Regions from separate parts of the Homo sapiens genome. Here region 2 is linked to region 1. A link means that fine-mapping ties the variant in region 1 to the expression of a gene that starts in the linked region. Tissue or cell type: whole blood. Region 1 holds a variant in brackets; the other region holds the start of a gene. All regions are shown on one strand. Distances are between the middles of the regions.

Evidence for each region. PIP is the estimated chance that this variant, and not a neighbour inherited with it, causes the effect.
Region 2: it holds the start of ME3, and the variant in region 1 is fine-mapped to the expression of ME3 in whole blood (TOPMed, PIP above 0.99). The same link has a PIP of 0.9 or more in tibial artery.

Annotation. Positions count from the first base shown.
Region 1 is chr11:86,454,324-86,462,431 of GRCh38, reverse strand. All of the region lies in intron 8 of ME3 (malic enzyme 3), which reads left to right. Among named protein-coding and RNA genes, the nearest start is that of CCDC81, 83 kb to the right of the region's middle. RefSeq lists an enhancer at 1,931-2,459. The variant A/G (reference allele first, on the strand shown) is at 3,749.
Region 2 is chr11:86,668,299-86,676,406 of GRCh38, reverse strand. ME3 (malic enzyme 3) reads left to right here and starts at 3,791. Exons shown (of 15, transcript NM_001161586.3): 1 at 3,791-4,083; 2 at 4,449-4,645. The coding sequence starts at 4,463. RefSeq lists a silencer at 1,126-1,420.

The DNA of each region.
Region 1 (8,108 bases):
CTTTTGCCTCTCCAGAAACTTAGCTACTAATAGCCTACTGTTGACCAGAAGCCTTACTAATAACATCAGTAGTGGATTAACACATAAATAGACTAGTATCTATCCCTATTTTATGTATGCATGACATACCTAACTTCTTAATTTTTTTGATATTTCTAGGCTACACAGTTCATCTGTGAGTGTTCGCAAATTGTTACAAACCTCCAAAATTTTAAAAAATATATGTATTGAAAAAATCTGCATATAAGTGGACTCACACAGCTCAACCCCATGTTGTTCAAGGATTGACTGTGCTCACATATAAATGCACCTCTACATGTGCTCATACATATTCACATGTGTACCCCACATGCAGACACATGGAGCTGTTTGTTTTTAATTAAATCAATCCATTTGTTTACATTCATTGGTTTTTGTGTCTTGCCTCTATAGCCAATTTTGCTCCCAGGCAAAACCAAGTGGGATGGTTTTCTGGGTCCCAGAGCAAAGAGAAGAAGGACTTCCCATTCTTTTCTCAGAAATTCAAGACTAAAGCCATCAATCTAGAACTCATGAGGACAGCTGGCAAATAGTGCTGGAATGGCAGGAGCCCTGTAAGAACCAGCCTTTGATCAGCTCAGCCTGATGTTTAGGTGTGACCATATCATTAACAACCATAAAGAGGTGGGCAGGAGCATGCGCCACCCAGATCCTCCTTCAAGGAAAGACTTGTTGCCCAGCTGACAGCAAGGCTGTCAGCACATCATGCAGAGCCTCAGAGAGAGAGAGCCACCTCGCCATCCCACCAGGGCCTGGCCTCACCCAGTGATGAGGGAATATGAAGGCTTAACTATTTTAGCCCAGTGCAGGACAACTCAAGCTCCCCATGGAGCTGGCTGAGGCTTTGGGGCCTGCATCACAGCTCAACTTCCCTCTCAACTCATTCTGCTTCCTTCCCTTCCTTCCCACAAGGGCACTTCCTAAAAACATCCTGAACACTCCAATATAACTCAGAATCTTCTTCCAGGGGACCCAAACTGTACCAAATAACATTTTGCATGCACACAGAACTTAAGGTTGAAAGTGCTTTTCATCCTCACTATCTTACAAGTGCCTGGCAACATCCCCCCCTCCCTCACTGGGGGACAAACACAGCTGTCCCACGTCACTAATGAGGAAACTGAAGCCCAGGGGGTTAAAGCTTGCTCACGGCCACACAGCCAGACAAAAGACACAAAGCTGGAACTGGAACCCCATTATGTCTGATTTGGAATTCTCCACTCTCTCCATGGCATCAGGCTGCCTGTTGCTCCTGCACGTGTGAAGTGGTGGAGGGTATCTTCTCGTTAAGGATGAAATTCCAGACCCTGCTGAAACAGTGTGGGTGTCACTGCTCCCTGGCATCCTGCTGCTGTCATCCTGCCCTCCCCATCGTTCCCATTCCTTCCTCTAACTCCTACAGAATGCAGACCTGAAGATGAGGCCCACAGTCACAAGCTGGTTAGGGATGGGTCCAGGCCAGAAGCCTGTGATGTGTGTTCTCATTGTTAAGCAGACAATGAGAAGACTGGTAAGGAATTCCAGGACTAATGAGCCAACATGGCAGATACAGCCCATGCTGCAATGGTCCCCCTTTATCTCCAAATACAAAGTAAGGAGCAATGCCACTTAAGACTACAAGCCATGCTCATAATGGGAGAGGAGCATCTCCATGCACAGAACCACAGAGGGTTGGGAGTGAAGGGGTGAGAGGGAGTGTGGGAAGGAGGAGGAAGCGATGCAGAATCATAGTTGTAAACAGAAACCAAATCACACCACACGTGGGAGCTGGAGACAGATTCTCAGAATCTTCTTGGGAACCACACATGGAGGGGGCTGGAATCGAGCAACCCACATGAAAATGAGACTAGGGTCATGCTACCTACTCTGAACACCAGCCTAGCCTCACATCCTCAGTGGATAGATAGAATTCAATCCTCGGGAGCCCCACTCTACTGATCTCCCAGAGGGCAGGGCCATGCCTGGTGCAGAGCAGGAGCCTAGGGCACATTATTTGACTGTCTCCCAACCAGTCCCACTGTACCATGTGCTCAGAATCACTGACCCCAAGGGGCTGGGCCTCTGAAGCCCGAGCACTTGAAGGGAAGAGAGCTCCCCAGGGCTTCTCATCATCTCTGCCTCCCACCCCAGCTCAGACCCACATAAAGCCTTGGCCCAGGCCCAGGCTGGTCCTTGGTGATCAGAGCTGCCAATGCACTGACTCATTGCTGGCAGCCTCTCAGGAATTTTGGAAAAGGCAGAGGCTCAGGTGACTTTTGTTGTTTCAGCTGGGACCAGAGAAGCATCTCTGCTCTTAGGGAGGAAAGAAAGGCCTAGAAGGGGAAAGGCAGTGGGAATGGTCACACTGGGGACAGGGGAAGGAAGGAGAGCCACACAAGGGGCCAGGTCCAGGGTGCTGCTGACCCAGTTTCCGTGGGTCCCTGGCCTCCACCTGCAAGCTGACCACACAGCATGGCTGGAGCCAGGAAAGCCCCACTGGCTCATCAGCTCTGCAGCTTCCTCCACCTGGCCAGCCTTCCCTGGACCTGCATTGTCCACCAATCCTGCTAAATCTCCAGGCCAGACGCCCATAAAGGCTCCTGTGTGTTATGTCAGGCTATTAGCACCCCCTGTGAGTCCAATGCTTAACAATCAGACATTTCACCAAGACAAGCCTAGGTCTGAATCCCCATTTTCCTGCTTTGTGGCTTTGGACAAGTGGCTGAAATTCTCGGTACCTTCCTTTCCTTATCTGTAAAATGGACTTAACAGTTTTAACAGCCACAACTGCTCATCAGCTAGTACCACCAGAATGGTCAGGGTTTTTTTATAAGGCCAGCATCTGTTATGGTTGGTTGCAGCCTATGCCAATTCCTTGCTAAGTATTTCCAACACCCGTTTATGGCACTGAATTGTTGTAAGGATTGAAGTGATGTATAGGTAGGGACAGGCATGTAGCAGTACTCAGTTCATGGTACCTATTACTATAATCTCTGATGCCTAATAGGCTCGTGACACACAGATACGGGAGGGAAGAAGGAAAGAGGAGACTTAAGGCAGAGATTTTGATGGAGGTGAGGAGAGGGCCACATGTGAGCACAGGACTGGGGAACTCTGGGGAGAAGAGAAGCAGGGCCCCATCTCACTTTTCTCCCCTTTCCCACATATTCCCTATTATTCCAGCCCATTGTATTAGTCACTCTTCTGTGAGTTTTCTGCCAACTCCATGATTTTGAATGTGCTGGTCCCTCTGCCTAGAATTCTCTTCCTGTTCTTCACTACTTTCTGTTTGTCCATAAAGGCTCATTTCACTTCCCCCAGGATAATGCATCCAGGGCCAAGCCACAGACTCTAAATGATCCCACTCTTCCCCAGGATCTGGGAGTGACACTGGACGGTGGTCACCCACTTTACAGAAGGCTTCAAAGTGAGCCAGGGGTAGGGTTCTCAGCCAAGAAATGCAAAATACATCCCTGGAAGATAATGACCTTGTTGGAGAGGGAAGGTGTGGGGGACTTTGCACAGGCTTCAGATGCCACAATAGGGAAGAGGCAGACAGGCAGGAATGGCTGGCTCATCTCTGAAGACCGTGCAGCTCGTTTGTCTTGTTTACAAGATGCCAGGGATTATTTCCAGCTGTCGGGGGTCAACTGCCCTCTCTCTCACCCACCACCACCACTACACACACTGAGTAGCAGTTCTAGGCCTTTCCTTGATCTCTCCCCCTGCC[A/G]TGAAACTTCCCCTGGTCTCTTTAACCTTTTCTCTCCTCTGTTCCCAAAGCCTTCCTTTTCACTAAGTCCTGTATTCTGAGGCTGTTCTTCACTTCCAGGGCTGTTCCTAGTCCTGAAGTTCATGTGGATCTCATGTATCTGGCTCCTCCGAGATCTCCCCTTTTAGCTGTTGCAACAGCCGAACCTCCAGAGAAGCCAAGAAGATGATCATCATTCCTTCTGGTTCTTTCCAAATTGTGGCAAAACAGGCCTAACCCTATCTTCTCCATTGGCCAGAGAAGTGCCCTCTAGAGAGTCCAGGAGCTCCAGAAAATTCCCTTATGACACAAAATTGCACTGAAGTAATGTAGAAAGCCTTTGCTTGGTGTCCAATAAAGGGGAATCTGAATTTTTGGAACACTTATGCTAGCAACTCCTTGAGAGTTTTATTTGAGAACAAGACTTTTATTTGTCTTTATTTATTCAAGGCCTAGCCCAGAGAAGGCCCAGAACAAACACTCAGCACATACTAATGAATAAATGAATGGCAGTATCTACTGTAGAAAGGTAATTCTTATGGATCGTGGAAGCAGGTGTGGCCTCATAGCAGAGGTTGTTCTGTCCCAATAGGGATCCAGGCCTCCAAAGCCACCGTGGCCAGACCCTGACAGAGCCTAACTCTTTCTGTCCTTCTTGCTGCCTGGGTCAGAAGTTTTCCCTTACCTGATAAAGCAGTAAATTCTTTCCTCCAATAATCTATTGTTCAGCATGGCAACTCCTTTAACTTTGTCAAATCTGACTATTAAAAGCAGAAACTACATTTTCAGCATGTCCTTTTGTGCTATTTCCTGAAGCTACAACCTCAAGTACTCAGTTTGCAGGAAATGTAATTATGGAAATCTCCCTCTGGAAAAAAAAACTTCTTTTTCTTTTACCATGAATAGGAACAACCTGCCACACTTTCAGCTGCCCATGGCATTTATGGGCACAAGTCATGTTCCAGCACATCCCTGGACCCATGGGCTTCTCAGAGTGGTTACCTCGAAACAGCTAAGTAGCTTCCTTTCCAGTTTTAAACCCCTAGTGCATAGCCCAAGAGCACCCCAAAAATGCAGGTTAATGATGGAGATAACTTTATTTGCCAAATTTTGTAATTTGGAGCTTAAGAACCACTGTTTTTCCTCTTGAGTTCTGGCCTGTACCAAGTGCAGAAATAGCTTCCCAAAGGAAAAAAATGGGCAACAGTACCAAATGCTGCTGAGAGGTCAAGAAAGAAGAAGGCTGAGAACTGATTACTGAATTTGGCCACCTGGAGGTACTTGGGGACCCTGACAAGAGGTGGGTCAGTCATTTGATTGGACTGGGTTTCATGGGGACCAAGGAGGAAGGAACTAGATGCAGTTAATATATTCAGCTCTCTAGAAGAGTTTGCCTATAAAGGAGAGTAAGAAATAGGGTGGGACATATAGGACCAAGGGAGGGCCTTTTAAAGATGGAAGTTTTACAGTGTATTTGTATGCTGATGAGAATGATCCAGTAGAGAGGGCAAAATTGAATATGCAGGAAATAGGAGTGGGAATAATGGGACAAGTAGGCAAAAATGATGGGATCCATTAGACAAGTGGTGCTTTAGCTAGAAGCAGGGAGGCATCGATGGTAACAGGGGGAAAAGCAAGTACTTGGACATTGGAGGCAGAGGGTCTGAAGACTTGGTGGTGAAAGGATTCAGAAGTTCTGTCCTGATTAGTTCCATTTCCCTTGAGCGTCACTCTCCACTTTTAAGGGCAAAAAATAGGAGCACAGTAGTCCCTACTTCATGGAGTTGTTGGGAAGATTAATTGAGCAAATCCTGTGCTGGTAAGCACACAGCACAGAGCCAAGGCCACAGTAAGAGTGATCAATAAATGGCAGCTGACCTTGCATCCTTTTATTGTAATGTGTGACTCTTTCCCATCAGATTTCCCATTGTTCTGAGCTCCCCTCCCCTTCCAGAGGTACAGCTGAATGTTGACATCTACTGCCTAAGTTCACTTCCCTCTGCCTCTGCTACCACCCTGCTCCGTCCTTCCCCAGAGAAACCCCATAACACCTCTCCTGCTGCCTTCAACTATAGTCAGGAAGGGCTGTCTGAGCAGCAGAGATCATGAAGGGATGGAAGCAAACCTGGGAAGGAAACCCCCAGGTTTCCTTGCTTTGGGTGACTGACAGGGCCAAGCCACCTTTCTCTGTCAATTTCCTCATCTGTACAACTGTTAAATGCCATGATCTCCAATCCCCATCCAGCACCGAATTTCTGTGAGGAAGCCCAGTTATTCAACCTGCAAATAACCCCAGAAGACGGTTGACACCCAAAAAGAAAAAGACCCATCCAGAGTGTAGTGTCTGCGGGATCATCTCTGATGGAATACCTTTGGCGCCATCTGGTGGCAAATGCTTTGCGCAACCCCTCCTTTCAGGGAGGCAAAAGGCTGTCCTGAAACAGACTCCGATGAGCAGAAAACTCCCGCTAGCCAATGGCAGGAAACTAGTACCTCACCTAGAGAGGCCATCTAGTTCAGTGCATCTCAAACTGGAATGGCATACAAATCATCTGGAGATCTTTTTAAATACAAATTCTGACTCCGTAGAACTGAAATGAAAGAGAGTTTTATGGGCGGAGAGTAAGAAGTATGGAGTTACTTGGAGGGAGGCAGAGAAAATAGGGAGTGCCACATAATAAGTGGACTTTGGAGAAAATTAAGGACAAAGGGGATTTGGGGATTTCAGAAGAGGGTCATACAATGCAATTCTCCTCGCCCTTTCTTTAAGTGATTTAAATACTTATTTAAACTGCTTGTTGATACTTCCTTGGATGTCAGCTTGGTGTTTCTTTTGAATGCAGTACAGTGCTGAGCCTGACCATGATATAGTCCAGCTTCATTCAGGTTAGATAAAAAAGTAGATATGGGAAAAGGAGGCATGGTTAAGGATGCCTGGGGTAGCAAGGAATGTCTTGCTGATCATTTGGGCAGTCTTAAGGAATAATGAACTGCAAAATGGTCTTCTAGATAGGTAGAATAGCAGGGGAAATGTACCTAAGTATAAACATGCATGATATGTGTAGGGAACAATGAATAAAGCTACTGGTACATGGAGTACACGGGGAGGCACTGCAGAGGTAGGTTGATACTGATAACATACTTTTCTGTACATAAACTAACAAAAAGTATGTCATGAACAACTGTTTTATAAAAGCCATCACACTTGTAATCATTTAGTAATTTCTTTCCTTACAAACAGAAATGAGCTTGGTCTATTTTGTTACCATGGTATCCTCAGTACCTGAGCCTGGTTCATAATTGATGCTCAAAAAATAAATGAATGTAACAATTTCCAGTGATCTCTGACTACCCACTGTGTTCTACTGTTTTGTGCCCAAGTTTTAGTAAACTGGGAGTTCTCTGATGGCAGGGATCATGTTTGATTCATCTGTCTTCGACAGTGCCTAGCATGGTGCCTGTCACTTTGTAGGCCCTCAGAGGGTGCACACTGTGTACTTTGCAGACCATGGGAAGGATGTTAGGAAGTCCCAGTATCCTTAGCCCTGTCTCTGTGACACTGCCAACAGTTCAGCACTCCCTCTAGGCCACAGCTGTGTGAAGACAGGGGTGCCTGCACCCCATCTTCTGAGAAGTATGATCCTGCATAGAGTCCCGCCTTCTGATGTCCACAATGATGAATGTGCACTTATTGGCCACCAACTGTTTGCTGTACCCCCTATCTCAGCCACTGAGCCAAGTATAAATCTAGGAGAAGGCCCACCCTAGAGCTAGCTAAAAATAAGCCACCTGGAAAACTAGAAACAGAGAATATAGAAAATTCACTCATACTCCCACCCTGCAACCATTAGTATTTTGTAAGTTCCTTCTGGATTCTATGTGTGTGATAAATGTATACTATTTAATGTTCTCTTCCTTCCAGCCAACTCAATGGAACATAGGTTAGTGCTTAAGCACACAGGCCCTAGAGCTTGATTCCCTGGATTCACATCCTGGCTCTGTTATATGATCTTGTACAATTCAGCAAACCATACCTTATTTTCCCAATCTGTAAAATGAGGATGGCAATAATGAGGATTAAATGAATAACTGTCTTCATGTTAAGACATATAAAGTACTTGGAACAATATCTGATGTTAGTGACTAGCTTCACAGCATTTTCCATGTTGCTGCATAATATTCATGATGATCATTTTTAATAGCTATAAAACAGTCTACTGTGTCTACACTGGCTACTTTACTTAATCATTACTCCTTTGTTAGATGTGTAGGTTATTTCCAGGCATTCTGTATTATAAATAACACTGTCATAAACATCCTAGTATATACATTTTGGACTTTT
Region 2 (8,108 bases), 210 kb before region 1:
TGAGGCTTAAAGAGGTCACATAAAATGCTCAAAGTCACTCACTGGTAGAGAGTCCAGACTATCTGGATTTAAAGGTGTTCACTTTTATGAGCCTCTTTGCACAATAGGAGAGATTTTCAAAAGTGCAATAAAAGTGAATAGGAGAGATAAAAATAGCAGAGTTTGTGGGCATCAGGGAGGGAGGGTAAGCTGCTGGTTGGCACTCTCGGAAGGCTCATTGGAGGAGGTAGTGTTTGAGTAGAATTGTAAAGGACAGACAGGGCTTCAACTGGCAGATGCTGGAAGCAGAGGAAACTGCTGAGCAAAGGCCCAGAGTTCAGGGCACATAAGCAGAGTGATGAGTATGCAGACCAGGAAGAAATAAATGATCCCCATAATTCTCCTTTGCTGCAAATAATAATAATAATGATAGAGTTGAAGTGCTTACAAATATTACTAGCAGCAATATGAATTTAAAGAGTTCTTTGGGGCAATCATGAACATTAAATGTTGTGCAGAATATTACGAATAAGTTTGTGAAGCAATGGGATTAACTGAAAAATAATGAATTTTATATTCACCTCCTTTTTAAAATCCATGTGTAAGGTCATTAACATCTGCTTTCAGAAGATAAGAGATCTTGTTTTAAGATAGCTGACTGAGTTAAAAATCTGACTTGAAGCCATTTTGTGCCCTTTTAACAATGTACCAAATTTAGTTTCAATTAATTCCACTCCTTGGAAGGTTATGCACAAATTTGAACCACAATTATATTTAATTCAAGAAACTGAGTTAATTCTAAGTGCCAGGCACTTTCCCAGGTATAGAGATGCAAAGAATTATAAATGGTGGTTGTAGTCATCAAGGAATTCACAATCTAGTAGGGAAACAGGTAGATATTTAAATCTCTGTAATCAAAATGGAAAAGCAAAAGTATTAACTATACCTGGAATATGGAACTGTTGGCTGGAGGAGATGGAATGAGATTCCTTCTCTGCCATCCCAAGAAGCATCATTACAATGATGGCAGAAGTCAGTAAATGGGATATGAAAGGAGAGGGGCCAAGACAAATTATGGAGACCCATTAGTTCTATATAGTGCTGGACCAGATCACCAGATCACAAGCCAACTTCCTGGCTGGCTAAGGAAGTCAGAGTTGTATGGAGTTGGAAGAAGATCTGTAATGTTTCCATGGTTCTGAACCTGGTCTCTGAAATCCTATATTCAGCTCTAAAAGTAAGGAAGTTGCCACAAAAGCAGAAATGGAAACCACACGTGCCAATAAAAACAGCTCACAGTTTCTGATCACCCACTACGGGCTAAGCACTTCAACAGAAAATGAGTATTATATTTAGACTTCTAGTTAGTGGTCCCTAGGAACCATTCTCCCCTTCTTCCTTTTAGTAATAGACTCCCCACTGAACTTCAGTAGAGCACATACATGCCTTTCCTACTACAAACAATATTTTCCAGCCCTCCCTGTAGCTTGATATGAATGTGTGACTTAGTTTTTACCAATGGAATGTGAGTAGAAGTAATATATACAACTTTCATGTCACTTCCACAGAACAGATTTGCTTTGGCTGGGCATAGAGGTTCACGCCTGTAATCCCAGCACTTTGGGAGGCCGAGGCAGGAGGATTGCTTGAGCCCAGGAGTTCAAGAACAGCCTAAACAACACAGTGAGACCCTGTCCCAATTAAAAAAACAAATCGATTTGCTTTCCCTCTGTTTCCTTGTTCCCGCTTTCCACGGCTGGGATGCTAACATGGTGTTAGCGCTGTGTAGAGGCGGGCAACAGCTACAGAAGAGCCTGGCAGCAAAAGAGAAAACCTGGGTCCCTGGACAACTGTATGGAACTGAGAAGCCACCACCTCCTCTTGCTACTGCCTTCTGTCACTGCTCCTGGTGGACCTGCCTTTAACCTTTTCTTTCCTGTCACCAAAGAACAAACACACACACAAAACAACATTGTAGAATTATGCCTGGGTTAAGAGAATATAGGCCACAGGTGAGGACATGTAAGAGACTTTTATATGTAAACTGTACAAGCTTTAGTGAATTGATGCTATAAAAATTATGTTCGCTTGTTTGGAAACCTTTGTTGTTTACATCCTGGTTTCAAATGACTAAAGTTACCTATTAGATATCCTCCAGGGGAGGGAAAGGTCATTGTATTCAGCAAGGGCAAACTGGTTCAACAATCAATTTCCAAATATTTGCATGCACTAGATACCAAAGATGGAAACACACATGATCTCTGCCCCCCAAAGATGTTGACTGGTGGGAAGAAGTGCCAATATAAAAATAGTGTTGAAAGGATTTAGTTAATACTATTGGTTGCACACAATCACACATCTGACACAAACTGGTTTAAGGCAGAAAAAAAGATCATTTATAAGCTTATGTAAATATGCAGTCCAAGAGTAAACCTGACTTCAGGGATGTAAACCCTACTGGATGAGAATCTTCATGGATGGGGCCTGGAAAGCTGTATTTTTGCCCCATCCTTATTTCCTACCAGGTAATTGTAATTCTGTTTTGGAAATAACTATTTTACGTAGATCATTCAAGTTGAAAATTAGATATTACACAGGGAGGAGAGAGACTGCAGGAGGAGACGATTATTCCTGAAGGGATGAGGGAATCCTGAACTCAGGCAGGAGCACCCCTTAGCACATTATGGGCCATGATGTCTGCTTGGTACTTACAACGGGGCTAATGCTGGCACCGGGAGCTTTGAAGGGGTGTCAGCAGAGGACCGTGCCAACTGTCTGTCAGTAAGTCTAAGGGTTCACGATCCTTATGAAAGTGGCTGCCACTTCCCTTCACCTAACAACTATTTATTGTGCAACTACATACCAGGCAGTGAGCTAGGCAGTGAGGACACACAGGTTCACAGGCAAAGAGCCTCTCTTCATGAAGCTTACATTCTAGACAGGAGATAGTCAGTAAACAATCAGAAAAACAAGCGCGCTACTGACTGTGTTAAGTTCTCTAAAGAGAAAAACCCCTTCACTCTATAGTTCCTAGTGCAGGCTGACATTGAATGGGATAGAGGAAAGGCCTTCGAGTTGACAACTTAGTGGAGAACTGAGAGGTGGGAATGAAGTAGTGGTTTGCAAGGCTGGAGTATGAGCCTTCCAAGGAGAGGCAATAGCAAGTGCAAAGGCCCTGCAGTGGGAGGGAACCAAGTGGGGTGAAGACACAGGAAGGATCAAGTATGGCCAGAGATCAGTGAGAAGGAAAGAGTAGAGTAGGATAAGTCTGAAGAGGCTGGCAAGAGCCAGTTTATGGGAAATCTTGTAGGCCCTGAAAGTTTGGATTTTATTCCACACACAACAAAGTGTTTGCTTTAAAAGGAATCTCCTGACTACTGTGTGGAGAAAGTATAAAATTAAGTTTGGGGCTAGATGGACCCCAAGATCCCTGTCTGGCCCCAATAACCCATGGCAAACTCCATGGGGTCCTCAGAAGTCCTCTTAGTAACTGTGGCTCCTATGTCAATGATGCTTAATAGAAGTATCCGCAAAAACAGAAATGTTCTGTATCTGCATACAAGTGGCTCTTGAACTGGAAATGTGGCTAGCGTGACTGCAGAACTGGATGTTAAATTTTATTCTATATAGACTAATTTATTTACGTTTATATAGCCACACGTGGCGAATGGCTATTATATTGGACAGCACAAGGCAACACTGAGCACCGAATGCCTGAGGATTTCTACTCCAAATCCTGAAGGCACGCCCTTCCCCGAATGTTGGGAGAGTGCGAGGATATGCTGACCCCCAAACGCAAATCCCCCTCTGTGCATTTAGTCTTGCCAAGATGGAGAGTCTCAGGCGGGCATTCTGAGCTGCTTCTTGTCACTGGGGAAAACCACGTGCACGCAGTGCTGAGGCGCCCCACGCGCGTCCTCAGGGGAAGCCAGGCACTGAGAACAAAGGTTGTGGGACCGCTCTTTGAGGAACTCACCAGCTCCGCGAGCTCGCGGCCGCCAGCGCGGTCCACCCATTGGCGGGAGAGGACTCACAGACCGCAGCTCCTCACCCCGCCTGCTCCGCAGCGGGACCGCGTAGACCTCAGCTCCCCGAGCAGCGCAGGTGGGCCAGGGAAGGAGAGGACCGAGGCAAGCCACCACGCGGGATTAGGGGTACGGGGACCCCTCGCCGCGCAGTCGCCTCTTTTTCACAGGGATGGGGGCAGGGGTGGCGCCGGCTGTCACCCGCACCGGATCTGCTTCCAGGGCTTGGTTTCGCTTTGCCTGGCTCTTGGCTAGGCCTGGCGCCCCGCGCGGAGCCGAGCAGGTGGCAGCCGAGGAGTGGCGGGGGCTGGAACATTTAACCCTTTGGGAGCACCTGCCCTCTCCCAGAGGGCGCGTCCCCGGATCAGGCCCGGTGCCCCGCAGCGCGCGTGGGTCCTGGCTGGCTGGAAGGAGGCCCTGACCTTGCTTTCTCTCCCGTGCCAGGTCTGCCAAGGACCATGGGTGCCGCGCTGGGGACAGGCACGCGGCTGGCTCCCTGGCCGGGCCGGGCCTGCGGCGCCCTCCCGCGCTGGACACCCACCGCGCCCGCCCAAGGCTGCCACTCCAAGCCTGGCCCGGCGCGCCCTGTGCCCCTGAAGAAGCGCGGATACGATGTCACCAGGAACCCTCATCTCAACAAGGTAATGGGCCAGAGGGCAGGACGGCCCGCGTTGCGATCCCGTGGCTGCCGGAAAATTGCGCCCCGCCCCCTGGACCCAGAAAGGATCCTCCCGGGCGCCCTTCCAGCGGTTTTTCTGTTTTTGCCTTGCAGGGGCTTGTTGTGACTTGGTTTGGCTTTCTTGTCCCTCCTCTCCCTTTTATGCGTGGAGAGAGGCGACCAGTAATGCAGGGAGCCTAATTTCTTCTGCAGTAACAACACAGACCAGGTTTAGATCCTCGCGGTCAGTCTGACCTGCGGTCAGCTCTCCCCTTGATGCTTACTAATTTTATTGGTCTTGGGCAGTTCATTTAACCTACATGAGCCTAGGTTTCCTTATCTGTAAAAGAGATATAATTGTCTTAGGAATGTCGTGAGATCTAAAGAGAAAATGCGGGTAGAAAATGGGGGTACGTTAGAACAGTGCCTGGTACCCAGTGGGAGAATAAATAAGGTTATGATTATTATTCTGAGAAAAAGATTAATTTGAGAGCAAGGATGGAAAAGTCTAGACTTATAGAAATTTTCGAGCTTGCAGGAGCATTAGAGATCCTAGTTTAAACCTCTTCTTTTACAAAAAACAAGACAAAGGAAACTTGCCCAAGGTCACCAGCTAGTTAGTTCTGGCTCTGCCACTGGAATCCAGATCTCCAATGCTTTGGTCGAGTTCAACCCACCGCTAGCTCTTTTGTATTTGTTTTTGGGAATAGAGTTTAGTATCTTTGGTTCAGAGGATTGGGTGAGAGAAATAGAAGCAAGGACAGATTTAGTCCTGTCTCCCCCTACCTCCTCAAATTAACTCACATATCTCATTTAACTTATCTGAGGCCCAACTTTCTCCAGCCTAAAATAGATATTATGATAGACCCACCATTTCTATCTCATTTGGTTATTGTGACAATAAAATGAATCACTGAACTTGAAATCATATTTTAAACTGTATAAAGTGCTGAATAACAATTACTGCAAAATAAATTTTTTTTTCATAATTGCTCTGACTCTGGATTGTGAAATTCAGGTGAGGCAGTCTGTATGGAAAAGATGTTTTTGAGAAGTAGGAACAACTATATAATGTGAAGTATTGTGACTGTTTCCTACAGAACTAATAGAAGCGGCTAAGGAAAAAAAAATCAAAATCAACCTCTATCACATTGGAGTCCTGCTCTTTCCAAAAGAAACCTTAAATTGTTTGGACGCTACCACTTTCCAAAGTGTTCAAGGTGTTTGTTATCACCTTGAATTACTTTGCTAGTAAGCGTTAGAAAATACAAACTGGCTTAAGCACACAAAGGCTCCTTTATCTAAAGAATCTAGAGGAAGGGTTGCAGGCACGGCTTGAACCACAAGCCCAGATGGCATTGCTCAAGATGCAGATTCTCTCTGGCTCTCTACTCTGCCTCTCTGCAAGGTCAGTTTCATCCTCAAGCTCTATTCAGTGAAGTCTCTCACTTCGTTATTGCCACAGTCCTCCATCTCCTGTTCTCACACCACATCATCCAGGAATAGAAAGATACTTTTATTCTGGTAGCTCTTGGGGAAGAGAAAATACCCTTTCTCTGACGCCTCAGAAAGCGAATCCTTCTGCCTTATTGACTCTGATTAGATTCTCTCTTCCCATTCCCAAACCAAAACCAATCACCAGTAATTAAAGCCGGTCAGAGCCCACCCCTGGAGTTAAAATGGGGTTTAAGGTAGGGCCACCCACACCATCTGGCTTGGAATAAAGGGAATATAGATCCTCACAGTAAATATGGATAGTGTCATCAGAAGGAGGAGGAATGGATGTAGAAAGCAAAACAATAAATTCCCACTACAGGCTCCAATCATTGTGAAAATAATTGCCTTAGAATTACTGGCATGTTACCAACCAGCATTTATTGCTTTGTTAAGTAGTTAAGAAAATGAAGGAAGATCTTTAAGTCTTTTTTTAAAACCTAGGTTTTGGTCCCCTGAAATCATTCTTGCCCCTGTCGTTTGCCTCTGATGTAAATTTTTTTCTCCCAAGTACTATAAATAAGTTGTTGATATGGTTTGGCTGTGTCCCCATACAAATCTCATCTTGAATTATAATCCCCATAATCCCCACGTGTTGTGGAAGGAACCCTGTGGGAGGTAATTGAATCACGGGGGTGGTTCCCCTGCATGCTGTTCTCGTGATAATGAATGAGTTCTCACGAGACCTGATGGTTTTATAAGTGCCTGACACATTTCCCCTGCTAGCGCTCATTCTCTCTCCTGCCACCCTCTGAGGAGGTGCCTTCGCCATGATTGTAAGTTTCTTGAGACCTTTCCAGCCATGTGGAACTGTGAGTCAATCAAACCTCTTTTCCTTATCAATTACCCAGTCTTGGGTATTTCTTCACAGCCGTGTAAGAACCAGACTAATACAGGTGTTATCCATAAATCTAAGGACCTGACCTTTCCATGATGTTAAACAACATCTTTTATATATTCCTGAAGTCAGCTGATGCTTGTCTGGGATAAGAAGGGTATCTAGAAGGAGGCTGACAGCCTGTTGGCATCCCCTATTCACTCACCCTTGGGGACAGAAGGGGAGCAACAGAGGGAGTGCTTCCTGGGAGTTACTGTGAGTGCCCTTCTCTTCCCACTGGAGTGCCACCCTCTGGCTGTTCTGTTGTCCTCCAGTGCTCAGAGAGTCTCCATGGAAGGCTTGAGCCTTGGTACTTTGCATCAGCCAGGTGGGAAGATAGTGCTGAGGTTAAATAGAACAATGAGGTTATTACTGAGGAAGCAAAATGGAAGTGCAGTTTTGAAAGAGTCTTCAATGCTGTGCTTAGTGTTCATGTCTGTGGGTGGATTTTTTTCTGTTAGAAGGAGAGCCCTTCCAGGCCAGGTAATGAGATTCGTCCACCTGTGTTTGGCATGGGGTAGTGCCTGAAAGATCTAGCTTAACATTAAATTCTTGGAATGTGTTCACTAGATTTGCAGCTCATTTCGACAGATTAGGAGTGGCATTTAAGTCGCAGCTGTATGACAGAGGGTGGTCAGGAGGTGGAATTATCTGAGAGAAGAGGTGCCGACCAGGGCAAGCATTGCTGCTATTGTGCATTCACTGGGTTCTGGTACCAGCTCCATCATGCTCTGGCCATGTGATCTGTGATGAATCTCATAAGCTCCTCTGCCCGTGTTACACTACTGCTTTGAGGATCATAGGAGACAGCCCCCATGTGGTAAATATTAGGTGATAATGAGGATGATTTCCATAATTGGGGTAGGAAGGCCCCTCAGAGATGATCTAGTCTGGAATTGTTCAGACTATGAGTTACAAACTATGAGACATGAAATTAGCTTAGTGGATCTACCAGCAATTTTTTTAAAGAAATGTATTAGAATGAAATAGAAAAATAGCAAATGCATTGAAGTTAATAAAGATGGATATTTTATCAGGTCAGCATGTAAAATGACTATTTTTACTGTGGATTGTA